2 separate regions of the Homo sapiens genome follow, and region 2 is linked to region 1. A link means that fine-mapping ties the variant in region 1 to the expression of a gene that starts in the linked region. Tissue or cell type: whole blood. Region 1 holds a variant in brackets; the other region holds the start of a gene. All regions are shown on one strand. Distances are from middle to middle.

The links. PIP is the estimated chance that this variant, and not a neighbour inherited with it, causes the effect.
Region 2: CCDC6 starts here. The variant in region 1 is fine-mapped to the expression of CCDC6 in whole blood (INTERVAL, PIP 0.98).

Annotation. Positions count from the first base shown.
Region 1 is chr10:59,978,495-59,986,494 of GRCh38, reverse strand. No RefSeq gene overlaps it. Among named protein-coding and RNA genes, the nearest start is that of LINC01553, 22 kb to the right of the region's middle. The variant C/G (reference allele first, on the strand shown) is at 4,511.
Region 2 is chr10:59,903,063-59,911,062 of GRCh38, reverse strand. It overlaps CCDC6 (coiled-coil domain containing 6), which reads left to right and starts at 4,507. Exons shown (of 9, transcript NM_005436.5): 1 at 4,507-4,941. The coding sequence starts at 4,639. RefSeq lists enhancers at 2,079-2,872, 5,565-5,794 and silencers at 3,918-4,212, 4,395-4,734, 4,765-5,044.

The DNA.
Region 1 (8,000 bases):
ACTTCACATGTTTACACTTATTTGTGGGAACTAAAAATTAAAACAATTTAGCTTATGGAGACAGGGAGTAGAAGGATGGTTACCAAAGTCTGGAAGGGTGGGGGCTGGGGGAGTGGGGATGCCTGTGGGTACAAAAAAATAGTTAGAAAGAATGAATAAGATCTAGTATTTGATAGCACAACAGAGTACAGCCAATAATTTAATTGTACATTTTATAATAACTAAAAGAGTAAAACTAGGTTATTTGTAACACAAAAGATAAATGCTTGAGGAAACAAATACCACATTTACCCTAATGTTATCATCATACATTGTATGCCTGTATCAAAATACCCCATATACTCTATAAATATATATACCTAGTTTGTACCCACAAAATTTAAGCACAGAAATATCTTAAAATAAAAATAAATAAAACAGGAGAGAGGCCAACCAAAATGCACAAATAAGCAGATCTGAAAGGTAGATGGAGACAGAGAGAAAAGAAAATTCTGAAGTAATTTGAGTTCTTAGAAGTTAGGTACTTCCTACTTACATAAGTCAGTACAGTCTCTTTATACTTAATATGGTCCAAATTGTGTTTTTTGTTCCCTAAAAACTAAGGATTATGACTAATATGGCATCAATCTCAGATCCACTAGTTTGTGTCCTGACTTGTCTCCTTCCTAGTTACCCAGTAGTCCTTTGTCTGGTTTCCCTGAGTTTTCACCTTTCTGTCTTAGGCCCTGTCTCCCAAGGGTACCCCTAGTAGTAATATCAGCTGGTGTTCCTCAAACTTCTCTCCCTTAAGTTGGCCAATAAGGGGTACATATTATACTCCTGGATGAAGTATCCCTCACTAGTTGTGTGACCTGGGCCCTCATTTTCCTCACAGTGTTGTTGGATATACCTTGAACAGTACTACATATAATTCTGAATATTTCTGAATAGCTTTCAAAAATAGTGGATGTACACTATGAGGGTCACAAAAGCTGAGTTGCAAACATTTGCAGTGCTGGAATAAATGAAGTTGAAAAATGGAATATTTTGTGTAACCAAGAGGCATTTGTTATTTCAGTTTTCTAGTAAAGGCTTATGCCAGTTTTGCAATATCAATGTAGTTTGTGTAGACAGTTGCTAAAAAATCACATGATCTTCTAGGATAAGCATTTTTAATTTTTTTCCATTTCAAAAACAAAAACATTAAAAAATAAAACCATGCTTAATTCTAACACCCTAAAACAAGTATTTCCTTCTAGTTTGCATCAAATGTATTTATTTTTTTCCACAGGTGAATAAGAGTGGTGTAACTTTATATTTCCTTTATTCACTTACATTTAAAAATAGGCTTTGCCAGGGCCGGGCGCAGTGGCTCACTCCTGTAATCCCAGCATTTTGGGAGGCTGAGGCAGGCGGATCACCTGAGGTCGGGAGTTTGAGTTCAGACTTACCAACATGGAAAAACCTTGTCTCTACTAAAAATACAAAATTAGCCAGGTGTGGTGGCACATGCCTATAACCCTAGCTACTCAGGAGGCTGAGGCAGGAGAATCACTTGAACCCGGGAGGTGGAGGTTGCAGTGAGCCGGGATTGCGCCATTGCACTACAGCCTGGGCAACAAAAGCAAAACTCAATCTCAAAAAAAAAAAAAAAAAAAAAAAAAAGGGCTTTGCCCCATGCAGGATCTTTACAATTCAATAGCTAGATATTATTATTTCCAATAGAGATATAATTTATACGACTACATAATTTACACTTTCTGATATTTGGATATTTCAATTTTTTCCAAATATTATAAATGCTCCAATAAAAAGTGGAATTATCAGGTCAAAAATCTGTGAACAGCTCTTGCTATTATGTAAAATTGATTCTCAAATGAGTTTTCCTGAGTCATCCCTACCAGCAGCCAAGTGTGAGTATACATATGTGGATGTTTCACTTTTAATTCAGCAGACCCTGCCTCTGGTATTATCTTTTTTTTTTCTTCCTCTAATGTAACAGGTATAACATGTTACCTTCTCAGTGTGCAACAAATAAATTAGACTCTGAGTTTTGCAAAGAATAATTAAAATCTAAGAAAGACAAAAATAAAAGCTTGCAAGTATAAAAACTTTCTATTTCTAAATCAAGCAATTTAGAACCTTTTCTAAATCAAGAAATTTAGAAATAGAATGATAGATTTAAAAATAGATGAACATTAGTAGTGTATAACTATTTATAATTCTTTTAATTCTTTTCCCTTTTTCAGATCTGTAACGTACAGAGGAGAATGTAATCTTGCATGCACATGTTAACCTACTGTTAACAATTCTGGTTTCAGAGTACTAAAACAAGACTGCAAATGTGTCCTTTTATAATTTTTTAAAAGGGGACATACTTTACAAAAGACAAAACTAAGCAGAGGATAAGAGTCAAAGAGTGCAAAACCTAGAGATTTCCTTTGAGAGATTTAACAGAGAAGAGGGATTAAAATTTATGAACCAATTGTCATCCAAAAATATCCTATCAGTTTCTCTACTCTGAATGCATCTACTTTCCCTGTTCCAAGTTTTAACCTTTCTTTAAAAGAAGTATTGAAGCTCTAAAGCTCCAGGGTGCTGTATTTAGAAGGCAGTAACAGACTAAGCTGGGCTGTTAGGAGCCCACATGAGGAGGCCTTGATATGGGTTCTGGAACACTCTTCATTTTGACTTTGGGATTCTGCTGACAGTGAGTAGCAGCTCTGGGCTAGACTTAAGACAATGAAGACTGACAATGACAGACAAATTTAAAGAGTTGTGGTCAGACTGTGGAGACTAACAGTCCTAAAATAGGTTGCATACTAACTTAATAGACTGTTTTCAACTCCTAGCTCATGTATCAGAGAAATGTATGGACTCCATAAAAATAATGGAATGGTGGCACATACCTAGTGATATAGTGATCATATTCCAAATGCCATACATACCCTAAACTCCTGAATTCAAACTAGTCACCCAAAAGTTTTTGTCTTTAAATACATATAACAACAATAACAAGGGGGAGAAAGTCCTGTTTCTAGTCCAAAACATTGTAAAGCTCAGATTATTAAGAGGTCATGTAAGCGATGTGCTTAGTGTATTCAAATCTTCATTCATTCAACAAGCTGAGCACCTACTAGGTGCTACAAATTCAGTGTTGAATAAAGACAAATCTTTGTCCTCTGAAAACACATTTTCAGAAGTGGAATAAGGGAACAGCAGGGCTCAGTGATGCATGCCTGTAATCCCAACACTTTGGGAAGCCGAGGCAGGATGATCTCTGGAGCCCAGGAGTTTAACACCAGCCTGGGTAACATAGTGAGACCCCATCTATACCAAAAAAATTAAAAATTAGCCTGGCGTAGTGGTGCATGCCTATAACTCCAACTGCTGGGGAGGCCGAGGTGGGAGGATCACTTGAGCCTCGGAGATGGTGGCTGCAGTGAGCCATGATCCCACCATTGCACTCCAACCTAGGCAAGAGAGCGTGACCCTGTCTCAAGAAAAAAAAAAAAATAGTAAGAGGAGAATGAATAATAGAATAAATGAGTATAATAAATTAAACTCATTAGAATATTACATTATGTCTCTGACAGAAGCACACAGGAACCTGAAATGGAGAATAACAAAGTTAAAGATGCAGGGAGGTCCTAAACAAAATATGGTTCTTTGCACTTTATAGCATCTATTGGTTTTAATAGTTCTCTGTTTTTTCCCTTTCTCTACTCCCCACTCTCTTCTTCCTCTGGATTCTACCAGTCTAGAGCTGCTTCAACATCTCCACTCTGCGTGTATACACAACAGGCACATATATGCACACCTCTTTTTTGATGACCCAAAACTTCACTTAATATTAAGAGATAAAAATCTCCTACTTCATGCTGGGTGCAGTGGCTCACACCTGTCACCCCAGCACTTTGGGAGGCCAAGGTGGGCAGATCACCTGAGGTCAGGAGTTCAACACCAGCCTGGCCAACATGGTGAAACACTGTGTCTACCAAAAATACAAAAATTAGCCGGGTGTGGTGGCGGGCAACTGTAATCCCAGCTACTCGGGAGGCTGAGGCAGGAGAATTGCTTGAACCCAGAAGGCGGAGGCTGCAGTGAGCCCAGATCACGCCACTGCACTCCAGCCTGGGCAACAGAACGAGACTCCATCTCAAAAAAAAAGAAAAGAAAAGAAAAGAAAATCTCCTACTTTAATGCCATAGGTATTCCTAGCAAAGTACAATGAGACTTGGGTACTGAAACTTCAGCTTGACTCCCCCACCCCTGCCCTCCCCTCCACCCCCGCCCCAGGCACCATTTTAATCCCTCATATTGCTTGACTAGAAAACTACTCAGGAAACAGCGCTAGAAATAATAGCAGACTTTTATAGAGGGCAAAACTGAATAACAAAGGAGCAGTAGTTATCAACATGTTTTGAAACCAAGGCACTTTTCTACGTTACTGCCATTTAAACATTTATTTTCCTCCTTTGAAATTGTTATCAGTGTTTGCTATCAGCTGGAACAGTATGGAAGTGACTCT[C/G]CTGAGGTTAGAAACAGTCTAACCCTAGTTCCCAATACAATCTTCACCAATTCAAAAGAAATTAGATAAATCCTACCTTAGAACATGCATCACAGGCCACTTTCTGAAATTATCTGGGGAAAGGTTCAGGCATGCCAGCAATGGGGATCATACCAGGAAAATACATCTCACCTGGGATAGTAGTATGAGGAGGAGGGGCAAGTTCCAGGCTTTGACCCCTATCCACTCCCAGCTGTGTGCTTAATTAAAGTTTGATTTCCAGAATGGCCTCCCTGTCTTAAATGAAAACCAAGCGTCATGACGTAGCTCTACAGCTCTGCCCCAAGGCACAGGTCTTGATTTTTCATTTTGGCAAAACTTCAAATACAATCAAGTCAGGGAGAAAAGTTCCAAAATGCCATAGAACCTTCTTAGATCTTCCTGGTCACAGCTTAAAGAGATACACATGAGGATTGCTTAATTGGAATCACTTGGAATAATTTAACCTGAAAGAAGAAACAAATAGCAGGGTTTGGTTTTGTTTTTAAATAATATGCAGTCATCAGGAAAAAAGCTGAAGTTGAGGTTGATCATATTAATTACCTGGAGTTCTTGTTAAAAGTAAAGAATCATCCAGACCTTAGGCTCTTATTTAATTATACAGAAATGTGAGATTGCATATTGACTTGGTTTGGTTTTTTGGTGGGTTTTTTGGGTTTTTGGTTTTTAGCATTGACTTTTGGGGAAAAAAAAGTGCAAAGTTAAGAACCGTAGCAAATAGCATGGTTGCATCTTTATCATGAACACATAATAGTTATACATTTTTATGGGGCACATGTGATATTATGATACAAGCAAACAATGTGTAATGATCAAATCAGGGTAATTGAGATATCCATCACCTCAAGCATCTATCATTTCTTTGTTTTATTTCAAGTGTGTCTCTGATTTGTAAATATGCATACAAAAAAGTGGAATATATACAGAAATATCAGTAGTGATTATTTCTATGTGGCAAGATTCCATCTGAATTTAGTGTTTTTCTTTTCTCTGTTTTTAAATGTTTCCAGACAATACAGGCACCATATTTTTAAAAGTTATTTACCATTTAAACTTTTCAAAAGACATCAGTTATCTGCTAATCTTCTGAAGAAAGCATAACTGGAAAACACATTTTTCTAATGGTAGCAAGACTTAGCTTAGGGGTTAAAAGAGATGGTTTCCCAACTCAACTCAGAAGCATCCATTTTCAAAATTCTCTTAATAGAAAATGAGTGAAAGATGTATCATATCCATACCACATGTGTCCTAACCTATCCCTGAATATAAATTTGTAGAGCCAATTGCCTACTCAACATCTCCAACTGGATGTCTCAAAAATTTCCCAAAGTTAATATATCCCAAACTGAAATCTTTATTCACTTCCTCTATCTCAATTCCCCTCCACAACCTCCTTTTCCTCATTTGGCCAGCCAATAATTTAAGAAGTACTTTTGACGCTTCCCTTTTTCTCAAAGCTCATATCCAAATTGTCAACAAGTCTACTTTTTTCTATCTTAAAATAAATCCTCAGAGTTTCAGTCAGCCCTAAAATACAGCTTCTATCTACACAGCTTAGTGCACTTTGTGCTACTGTAACAGAATATCTAAGACTGGGTAACATATAACGAAAAGAATTATTCTTTAGAATAATAAAAAATAGAATTTATTTTTTCACAGTTATGAAGGCTGAGAAGTCCAAGATCAAGGCACTAGCCTCTAGGGAGGGTCTTCTTGCTGCATACTCACATAACAGAAGATGGAAGGGCAAAAGAGAAGGAACTCCCTTAACATCAAGTCCTTTTATAAAATGGCACAAAATTGCATTTAGGAGGGAGGGGCCCTCATGGCCTAATCACCTCTTAAAGGCCTCACTTCTTTTTTTTTTTTTTAATGGGGTCTTGCTCTGTTGCCCAGACTGGAGTGCAGTGGTGCGATCTCAGCTCACTGCAACCTCTGCCTCCCTGGTTCAAGGGATTCTCTGCCTCAGCCTCCCGAGTAGCTGGGATTACAGGCACCCACCACCATGCCCGGCTAATTTTTTGTATTTTCAGTACAGATGGGGTTTCACCATCTTGGCCAGGCTGGGCTTGAACTCCTTACCTCGTGATCCACCTGCCTCGGCCTCCCAAAGTGCTGGGATTACAGATGTGAGCCACCGTGCCCGGCCAGGCCCCACCTCTTAATATTACCACATTGGCAGCACCTGAACTTTGGCGGGGGGACACACTCAAACTATAATAAACCTAACAGGTGGAAGAAGTGTAAATAAAGTCTCACATGACCCATGCCTTCAACTGTAACAACTTCAAATTACTTGTAAGATATAAACATAAAATTACAATAGCATTTCCATTGCTGCTACAACCCTATGAATACAGAAAGTTAGGGGAGTTAAAATTCTATGTGGAAAAGAGAAGAGAAAAGGAAAGAAGTGAGATTACTACTTAGAACACAGAGAAAATCACCCTCAGACAGAGACACTCTGAAACTGAGTGCTAAAATACTGAAAACAAATCTGGGACTTAGTAGTACACAGCACTACCTACAGGAAAGGGCTTGAAAGTGAGATATCAAGCTGGGTGCAGTGGCTCATGCCTGTAAATCCCAGCAATTTGGGAGGCTGAGGTGGGCGGATAACCTGAAATCAGGAGTTTGAGACCAACCTGGCTAACACGGTGAAGCCCCGTCTCTACTAAAAATACAAAAAATTAGCTGGGCATGGTGGCAGCCGCCTGTAATCCTAGCTACTTGGGAGCCTGAAGCAGGAGAATTGCTGGAACCTGGGAGGTAGAGGTTGCAGTGAGCCAAGATCACGCCACTGCACTCCAGACTGGGAGACAAGAGCGAAACTCCCTCTGAAAAAATAAATAAATAAAGTGAGATATCAGACATGTCAGCCTAGAGGAATTACTGCTTCTAGGGGAAAGGAAGATTAATATATAGAAGTAGTGATGCCCCTCAGATGTCTGCCACAGAGAGAAAAAAGAAAGTAAGAAGAAAAATTAAGGATCCTATGAAAACAGAAGAGAATTACAAGACATGCCAACTCTTCTCCCCTCCTCCATGACATCACCACTAAGACATTTTATTAAAGAAATTACATTTCACTATGCTGTCTGAACTAAGCACTCATAAATTAGAAACCCTATCAACAAATGCCTAGACTTAAAAAATAATCAGACCAATGCTATATGAAGCTACCATAAGAAGATGAAAGAAACTGAGAAGCTGAACATTTCAGCTAATGAAATGTACTTACCCAAACCTAACCCTGAAGCAAAATCAAAGTGTAACACAACATTGCAAATTGAATATATCCTCAAACAAGTATTTGAAGATAAAGAAACCAATTAAAATCGGCCAGGCATGGTGGCTCATGCCTGTAATCCCAGCACTTTGGGAGGCCGAGGGAGGGGGATCACGAGGTCAGGAATTCGAGACTGGCCTGACCAACATGGTGAAACCCTGT
Region 2 (8,000 bases), 75 kb after region 1:
CAAAGTTTTAGATGTTACTGGCTGCCAAAGCTCCAGACACATAAATCATATGTGTTTTGTTTTTTTTTTTTTCGAGACTGAATTTCACATTTGTTGCCCAGGCTGGAGTGCAGTGACGTGTTCTCGGCTCACTGCAACCTCCACCTCCTGGGTTCAAGCAATTGTCCTGCCTCAGCCTCCCGAGTAGCTGGGATTACAGGCATGTGCCACCATGCCCAGCTAATTTTGTATTTTTAGTAGAGATGGGGTTTCACCATGTTGGTCAGGCTGGTCTCAAACTCCTGACCTCAGGTGATCCGCCTGCTTCAGCCTCCCAAATTGCTGGGATTACAGGCATGAGCCACTGCCCCCAGCCTGATATTCTTACTTCTCAAATGATTTACTTTAGCTGATGACTTATTTCTTTAGACTGTCATCTGTATTAATGGCTTTGGTTCCTGTGAAGCAATAATGAGTGAATAAAAACAGGAGCATAGGGATGAGATATGTAATTAATCTTGTAGTCATGATCTCTTGACAAGTTGAGATGTTGCATGTGCAAGGCTAGTTTAATGTTAAAAAGTGTAAAATATTGAAAAAACATGTTGTAGAAATAGAGTGGCTGGGCCGGGCATGGTGGCTCATGCCTGTAATCCCCCTACTTTGGGAGGCTGAGGTGGGTGGATCACCTGAGGTCAGGAGTTTCAGACAAGCCTGGCCAACATGGTGAAACCTGGTCTCTACTGAAAATACAAAAAACTAGCTGGGTGTGGTGGCTGGTGCCTGTAGTCCCAGCTACTCGGGAGGCTGAGGCAGGAGAATCGCTTGAACCCAGGAGGTGGAGGTTGCAGTGAGCAGAGATTGTGCCATTGCACTCCAGCCTGGGTGATAGAGCGAAATTTGGTCTTCAAAAAGAAAAAAGAAAAAAAAAAAAAAGAAATAGAGTGGCTAAAGACAGCAATAGTATAAAGTGTGGATATGGTTGTTTGGGCCCAGGATCTCTTGTCTAATTGACACTGAGAAGATAAAATGAGAAGGAAATTCTGTTGGTGACTCAGTGGTATCTAATCAGTGTGTAACCACTCCAAAATGGGGCTGTCTTTTGTTTTACTAGTTCAGTGGTTCCAAACTGGAGGTAATTTTGCTGCCCAGGGGATATTTGGCAATGTCTGAAGACATTTTTTGGCTGGCATACTACTGGAATCTACTAGGTAAAGGCTAGGGAGGCTGCTAAACATCCTACAATGCACAGGACAGCTCCCTACAACAAAAAATTACCCAGTCTCAAATGTCAGTGTTCAGAAATGCCTTGCTAGACCTAGACAAAGCTTCTAAATTAAAGGTGTAATTAGATAAAGAAACTATCAACTACTTTTCAAGAAATGATAGCCCTAGGCTGGGCACAGTGGCTCTCGCCGGTCATCCCAACACTTTGGGAATCCAAGGCAGGAGGATCACTTGAGGCCAGGAGTTCAAAGCCAGGAATTCAAGACGAGACTGGTCAACATAGAGAGACCTAGCCTCTTAAAAAAAAAAAAGAAGGAGGAGAAATGATAGGGCTACATGGACACATTCTTCTATATTTCTATCCAACTTCTGACACTGTGACATCCCGCTCATACTTGGCTCACCCTAATTTTTTTCAAAACTGTAATGGTGGGTCCTGCAACAACTAAATCCATTTAGAATTTGAATAAAATTACTCAGATCTGACATTAATGTAACTGGATATGTACAGCAATTTGTTTATATATATTAAAAATTAACAAAATTGCTCTATGATTTATGCCATTATTATTTTATTTTATTGTTGTAAACACTAAAGTTCCAAGGCCATAGAGTAAGTGATTTGCAAAAATGGCACTAGACAAATAAAAATCTTGATGTTGCGCCTTGCAGTTAGACTACAAGGTATTCTTTTCCTTTGTTCATGTGTTTTTGCAGCTTAAATTGAGGGCAAAGCTAAATTTCATTATTTCTCCAAAGGAGGTGATTACCTAAATCTGTCCCTTCTTCCTCCAGGCAGCACATACTACCATTTGTTCTTGTGATTCATTTCCCCTAGAAAGCTGAGAAGGAATTTTATAATGATATTATTGGTTTTGTAACTGGTGTTTCCATTGTAATGCTATTACGGAACCAGTGTTGTGATAAATGATCTGTTTATAAGGGAAATCACTTTTACAAGAAGTAGAAAATTAGACACGCTTCTGCTTTGCAATAACAATAAAAACCGCGGTGAAAAAATATTCTCCAGTTTATTCCCATCTGTATCAGCAGGGAAGCTTTAGAAGATGGCTTTCTCCCTAAAGTCTTCTAACCACGATTACTACCTACAAGTCCCATGTCAAAATGCAAATTTCCTCCAAATTCCACTGAAGGCCACTACATTCTTAAGCTTAACCATGACTTGGGCCCTTTAAGAAAACCAGGCGCTTCAAACTCCACCCCTCTGCTGACTTGAAGCAGTGTGAGTCCGCCTTTCCAAGGCGGTTAGTTTTGTGGTGACGCTAAGAGAGAGTTAATTTGCCCCCTGCTCTGCCTGGAAGGAATGTTCCTGTTGCAATAAGCTCTAAAAGTGGAAGCTTTAAGATAATATGGAATAGGGAGCAATAGAAACTTGTGAGGTATGGCAGCCAGACCTACTCTTAAGATTCGATCACAGTGCTGAATAAAGGGGAAAGAATGTTGTTAAATCTGTTTCCCCCTGTGGTGCTTCTCCCTGCTAGCTTTACTCTTCCATTTCAACCCTCAAGTGAGCTTTCCAGAATCCGTTTCCAATTTAACTCATTGTCTCATGTACTAGATCCCAAAAAAGTGAGAGAACTAAGTTTCAGTGCAAATTAAACTGGATCACTTGTAACAGAATGATTTAGATTGCCTATATGTTTCTCAAGAGCAAAGCCAAGCATTTCCTCCCTCCTGCTATACAAACAGTGACAGAGTTCAGAAGCCCTCCAGCACTAAGCTAAAAAATACCTGGGAGAAACTGGGGTTTAGTTGCTGTTGGCATTTAAGCTGTTTGCTAAAAGCAGCCATCTTGGTGAAAGATGATGTCATTTGGAACACTTGGTGTTTTCGAGTTTATTCTGAGGTGCCAGTTTCCAAGAGCCATTGAATCACCGTTTAATCATGAGATCAAATTTAGGTTTAAAGATAATGAGGGAGTGGGAATAAGAATCATTCTTCTTTCTTCCTAACACTTTAGAAATCTTTCAGAAAGTTCAACCCAACAGAAAAAAAAATTACACTTTTTTTTCTATTTTCTATTACCATGTGTTTGTTGTAATGTTAACTAAGCGTGGGTAATAAAACTAGTCTGGTCAGTTTCACTTTCCAATTTTTATACATAAGTGAAAGCTGTTTTGTGTCAACAGGGCAAAGTGTTTAGAATCATCTCACCTGCTGGGCCAATTTCCTGCAAGCCTTTCTTTGGGAAGAGGAAGGGGGAATAAAAGTTTTTGATTTTTAATTTCTTAAACTGCAAAGCTAGAACCATGAATTAGACCGCATTACAGTAATTACTGTTTTATTTTTACATGCTAAAGTTTTCTAGGAGTGAGCAAGAGGATAGCAAAGACGGGTGATGTTGCACTCCCACTCAATCATTACTATTTGTATAGCATAATGTTATGTCCGCAGTTACTTTGGAAAATTGGCACTTAAAGAGGTGTTTCAATCTTCTACTAAAAGTGTTTCGCCTTCCTTTTTTTTTTTCTTCATTAGGTAAATGTTACTGTCTTAATCCTACTACGAGACATGTGCTGGAAATGTTTGCAAAATGCAAAGAGAAAAAGAAAAAAACAGTTGCACCTTGTTTAAACAATTGAGCGCAGTGTGGTTTATGAGGTTATTAAAGGAGATGTGTGTCTCTCCTGCAAATTCTTACTTAACAAGGTTAACCTGTGGCTGCTGTTGTTTCATCCTCCTCGGCCTCTTGTAGAGGAACTTTGTTCTCTTAGGTTTATCCAAGCCTTCCTAGTCAAAAACACCTTGCTTTTGAGAATATAAAACTGCGTGTATGTGTGAAACAGATAGAGGGAGACACGCGCACACACAGTCGGCGGAAGATGGGGCCACAACACGGTAGAGGATGGGTGCCGGAGCCCGGCTGACCTTTCCACGTGTCCCCGGCACCTGCGAGGCTGGTGGGGCATCAGGTTTCCTTTTTCTCGGGGCGGGCGCGAGCCCGGAAGAGGCTGGGCGGCCGTGGGCTTAGATCAGGGGGCTCGGAGGCCCTCCCTTGGAACACGTGTGGCTGGCGAGCTGGTGGTGCGGGGGCAGTCCTTGGCTTTCCCGCACCCGCAGTGCCTGCGCGTTCCCAGCCCGCCCGTGGTCACCAGACGGCGGCGGGCGGGTCCCGGAGCTTTCAGCCAGCTTTGCTGGGCGGCCTAGGGAGCGCGCCCAGCCCGGCTGGAGCGAGCCCCAGTGCAATACTGCCCAAGCCCGGGCGGGGTCTCTGTTCTCTGGCAGAGGAGGTCCCTTGGCAGCGGGAAGCGCCCTCTCTTTCTCTCGCCGCCGCTCCGAGTCTGCGCCCTGGTGCCAGGCGCTCAGCTCGGCGCTCCCCTGTGCTCGCCCGGCGCCCACTCATTCGCAGCCCGGCCTTCGTCGCCGCCGCCTCCCTGCTGCTCCTCCTCCTTTCCCCAGCCCGCCGCGGCCATGGCGGACAGCGCCAGCGAGAGCGACACGGACGGGGCGGGGGGCAACAGCAGCAGCTCGGCCGCCATGCAGTCGTCCTGCTCGTCGACCTCGGGCGGCGGCGGTGGCGGCGGGGGAGGCGGCGGCGGTGGGAAGTCGGGGGGCATTGTCATCTCGCCGTTCCGCCTGGAGGAGCTCACCAACCGCCTGGCCTCGCTGCAGCAAGAGAACAAGGTGCTGAAGATAGAGCTGGAGACCTACAAACTGAAGTGCAAGGCACTGCAGGAGGAGAACCGCGACCTGCGCAAAGCCAGCGTGACCATCGTGAGTGCCCCCCGGGGACGCGCCGCAGCGCCGACCTCCGCCCGCCCCGGGAGGGGCTGCACCCGAATCCAGCCACCCCCCAAGTCTTCCCCAGATTCCCGGGGACCCTCTGAGAGCACACTCCCTGCGGGGACCTGCTGGCTTCCGGGAGGAGAGGGAGGTATCCCTTCGGGGCCACGCGGGTCTGTCCTCCTCGGGGGTCTGAGGACCCTTGCGCGGTGCGGGGGAAGGCTACTGTGGCAACCATTCATGGTCCCTTTTAGCCTCTGGAGAGGAGGCCCCTCCGGGGCTGGGCTGGAGGCTGGCGGCGTGGCTGGGGGGCGGGGTAGGACTTTTTTCAGCCCTAGCATGTTTGAGGGGTGCGTCCAGAATCTGGGGAACCCCAGTCCTGGAAGAGGGAGGAAGCTGGGATCTCTTACTGGGTCCTGGCTCGGAGTGTGGGGGTTCGCAGCTGGACTGGGCACTAAGCTGGCATCTGGACTGCGCTAGCTGGATCGCCCGGGGAGGGGGCGGGAGAGAGTGGCCGGGAATCCGGGAAGTGGAGTTTTCTGGCCGGGATCGAGAGGGAAGGGCGGGTACGGCGCTAATGCTCCCACCTCTGTTGGAAGCTCTTTGCTTTGGGTTGGGAGGGTGGACGGTTTACAGCGAGGAGAGTGCAGCATCCACGCCTGGACAGGGCTGGGGCCGAAACCAGGGGAAGGGTAGTGACTGTGACTCCCTGGCTGAGCCAGAGGTACGTGTGTTTGCTTCATTCGTGGAGTGGTTAGAAGTATCTTGCTTCTGAGTCTAGATACTGGAGAACAGGCCATCTGTTCTGTTTCTACCTGTCCCCTGGAGGCTGCCCAGAAACGGGTAAGCTTGGGTCTGTAGGTCTCTCTCCTGGTGTGGCAGGCGTTTAGAAAGGCCCCTATAGCAGTGATGAGGCGAAACGTAACTAGAAAAAGTACACTGTGTACTCTCACCTATCATCCCTGCCAGCTCACCACATCATTAACATGAAGGATCCCCACACAGACAACTGTATTCAAATCAAAAGTTCCCCAGCCAGAAGCAGAGAAGATGATGTCAAGAAATCAAGGGGGATAAATGGCCATAGCTGCTGCAAAATAGCGGATTAGGCTGAACTTTGAAATGAAGAAAAAGGGATGAATTTGGGGATAGAGGGTCACACCTTGGAAATGGAGCAAGTTTAGGATGCCCCTTGTGCCAGGAAATGCCTTCGGTGGAGGAGGCTGTGTATATGTGTGCGCACGCGTGTGTACACCCCCAGTGCTGGCTCATACATGAGAACTAGATGGCATTCTTAATTTGTGTAGAAAGCAAGTTGCAAGTTAAGTGTGATCAGTAGCCTAAATAGCAGTTGATTGTAAAAAGAAACTTTTCATGCTCAAATCCAATTTTGGAGAATGGAATTGGAGCAACTTTCATGTGAGATGGTAAAGTTCTTGAAGTGCCCTTTTGGTAGGAAGGTGGGGGGCGGGGAATTTGCAGAGGCAGCCACTTCCAAGCCTCCTATGCAGCTTTCTTCGCTGACAGAGATGTCTTTGCTGAGTGGGGGTTAAGAAGAGAGGGAAGTTGTTGGAGGCAGTTTAAGGTTTGAGTTAGTAAATGAGAGGGTTAGTCTCTTGGAGACTGTGAGCCATGGAAAGTAGTAAGACTTGCATGAAGCAAAATAGCCTTTTGCATGCAGTGGGCAATTCAGGCTGGTTTTGTTTGGGAGGGAGGAATGAGGGATGCAGAGACTATGAAAGGGTTATCTGTTTGACACTTAGACCGTATTATAACTAGGTTTGTAAATTGTGCTTAAACATGTTGGCTTTGCAGGAACAAATGTGTTCATTCCCGGTGTTTAAGATCAGAGGCCTTCTGAGTACTTGGCTAGAAGAGCGTATAAGGTGGTGGCTTGCTTTCTTAGCACTTACCCTTAACTACACTGACATCCAACCGAATATACTTTGTGAAATGTCGTGTGGTGTTAATGAGTAAAGTTAACATTGTTTTAGATGACACTGCACAAGTACCAGAAGCCTCTCAGTTCTTCTTTAATTTCTGACTAATATATTCAGGGAGACACATAAAAAAGTGCTTGTGGTTCGCCTGGTTTCCTAATACTTGGCAGTTGTTACTAAGGAGCTGAATGATAAATGCAGAAAACAGATTCCTTCAAGATTTTGCAGGTTTTGTTAACTGACCTAGGATCCAGATTCTGTGGTGGTACGTTTGACCTCTCAGGTATGTAATGCGGGAGGAGAAATTTATGTGACTCCATGAAATGGGCCTGTGAATGTAGAGTCCATTGAACAACACTTAAGTAGTTTATGTCAAGGTTAAGCTGTACAATCCCTGACATCGCTGACTTAAGCATTACCCTTGCTAGTGGCAGGCTAGGAAGTTTCTGATAATTAAGTGAAGGCCTTGTTAGATTTTTCACTATTTTAGTTAATTTGAAGGGAAGATGGTACCATAATTCTGGTAATTGCCTTCCTGGCTCTTTTTAGTTCTAATTATGATATTAACGTTCATGTCCTTGGGCACTAAAGGTGATTGTGGCCTTCTTTTTCCTTGAGCAAGTTCAGGAAGACACATTGCCTTTTTGCCACACCCTGGGGAAGAGCCGGGCTCTTTTTTTCCCCCGACTTGTTTTGTTTTTTAATAGACTTTATTTTTTTAGAGCACTTTTATCTTCACGTAACACTGAACATAAAGTACAGAGATTTCCCACGTAACCCCTGCCTTCACACGGGCACAGCCTCCTCCACCATCAACATCTTTCATCATAGTGGTCCATTTGTTATAGTCAGTGAACCTACGTTGATACATCATTATCACCCAAAGTCTAGAGTTTACTTGGTCTTGTATATTCTATGAGTTTAGACAAATGTATAATGACATGTGTCCACCATTATAGTATTACGCAGAGTTTTTCTGCCCTGGAAGTCTTCCACGCTCTGTTCATCTTTCCCTCCCTGCAAACTCCTGGCAACCACTGATTTTTTTTACTCTCTCCTTAGTTTTGCCTTTTCCAGAATGTCATATAGTTGGAATCATACAGTATGCAG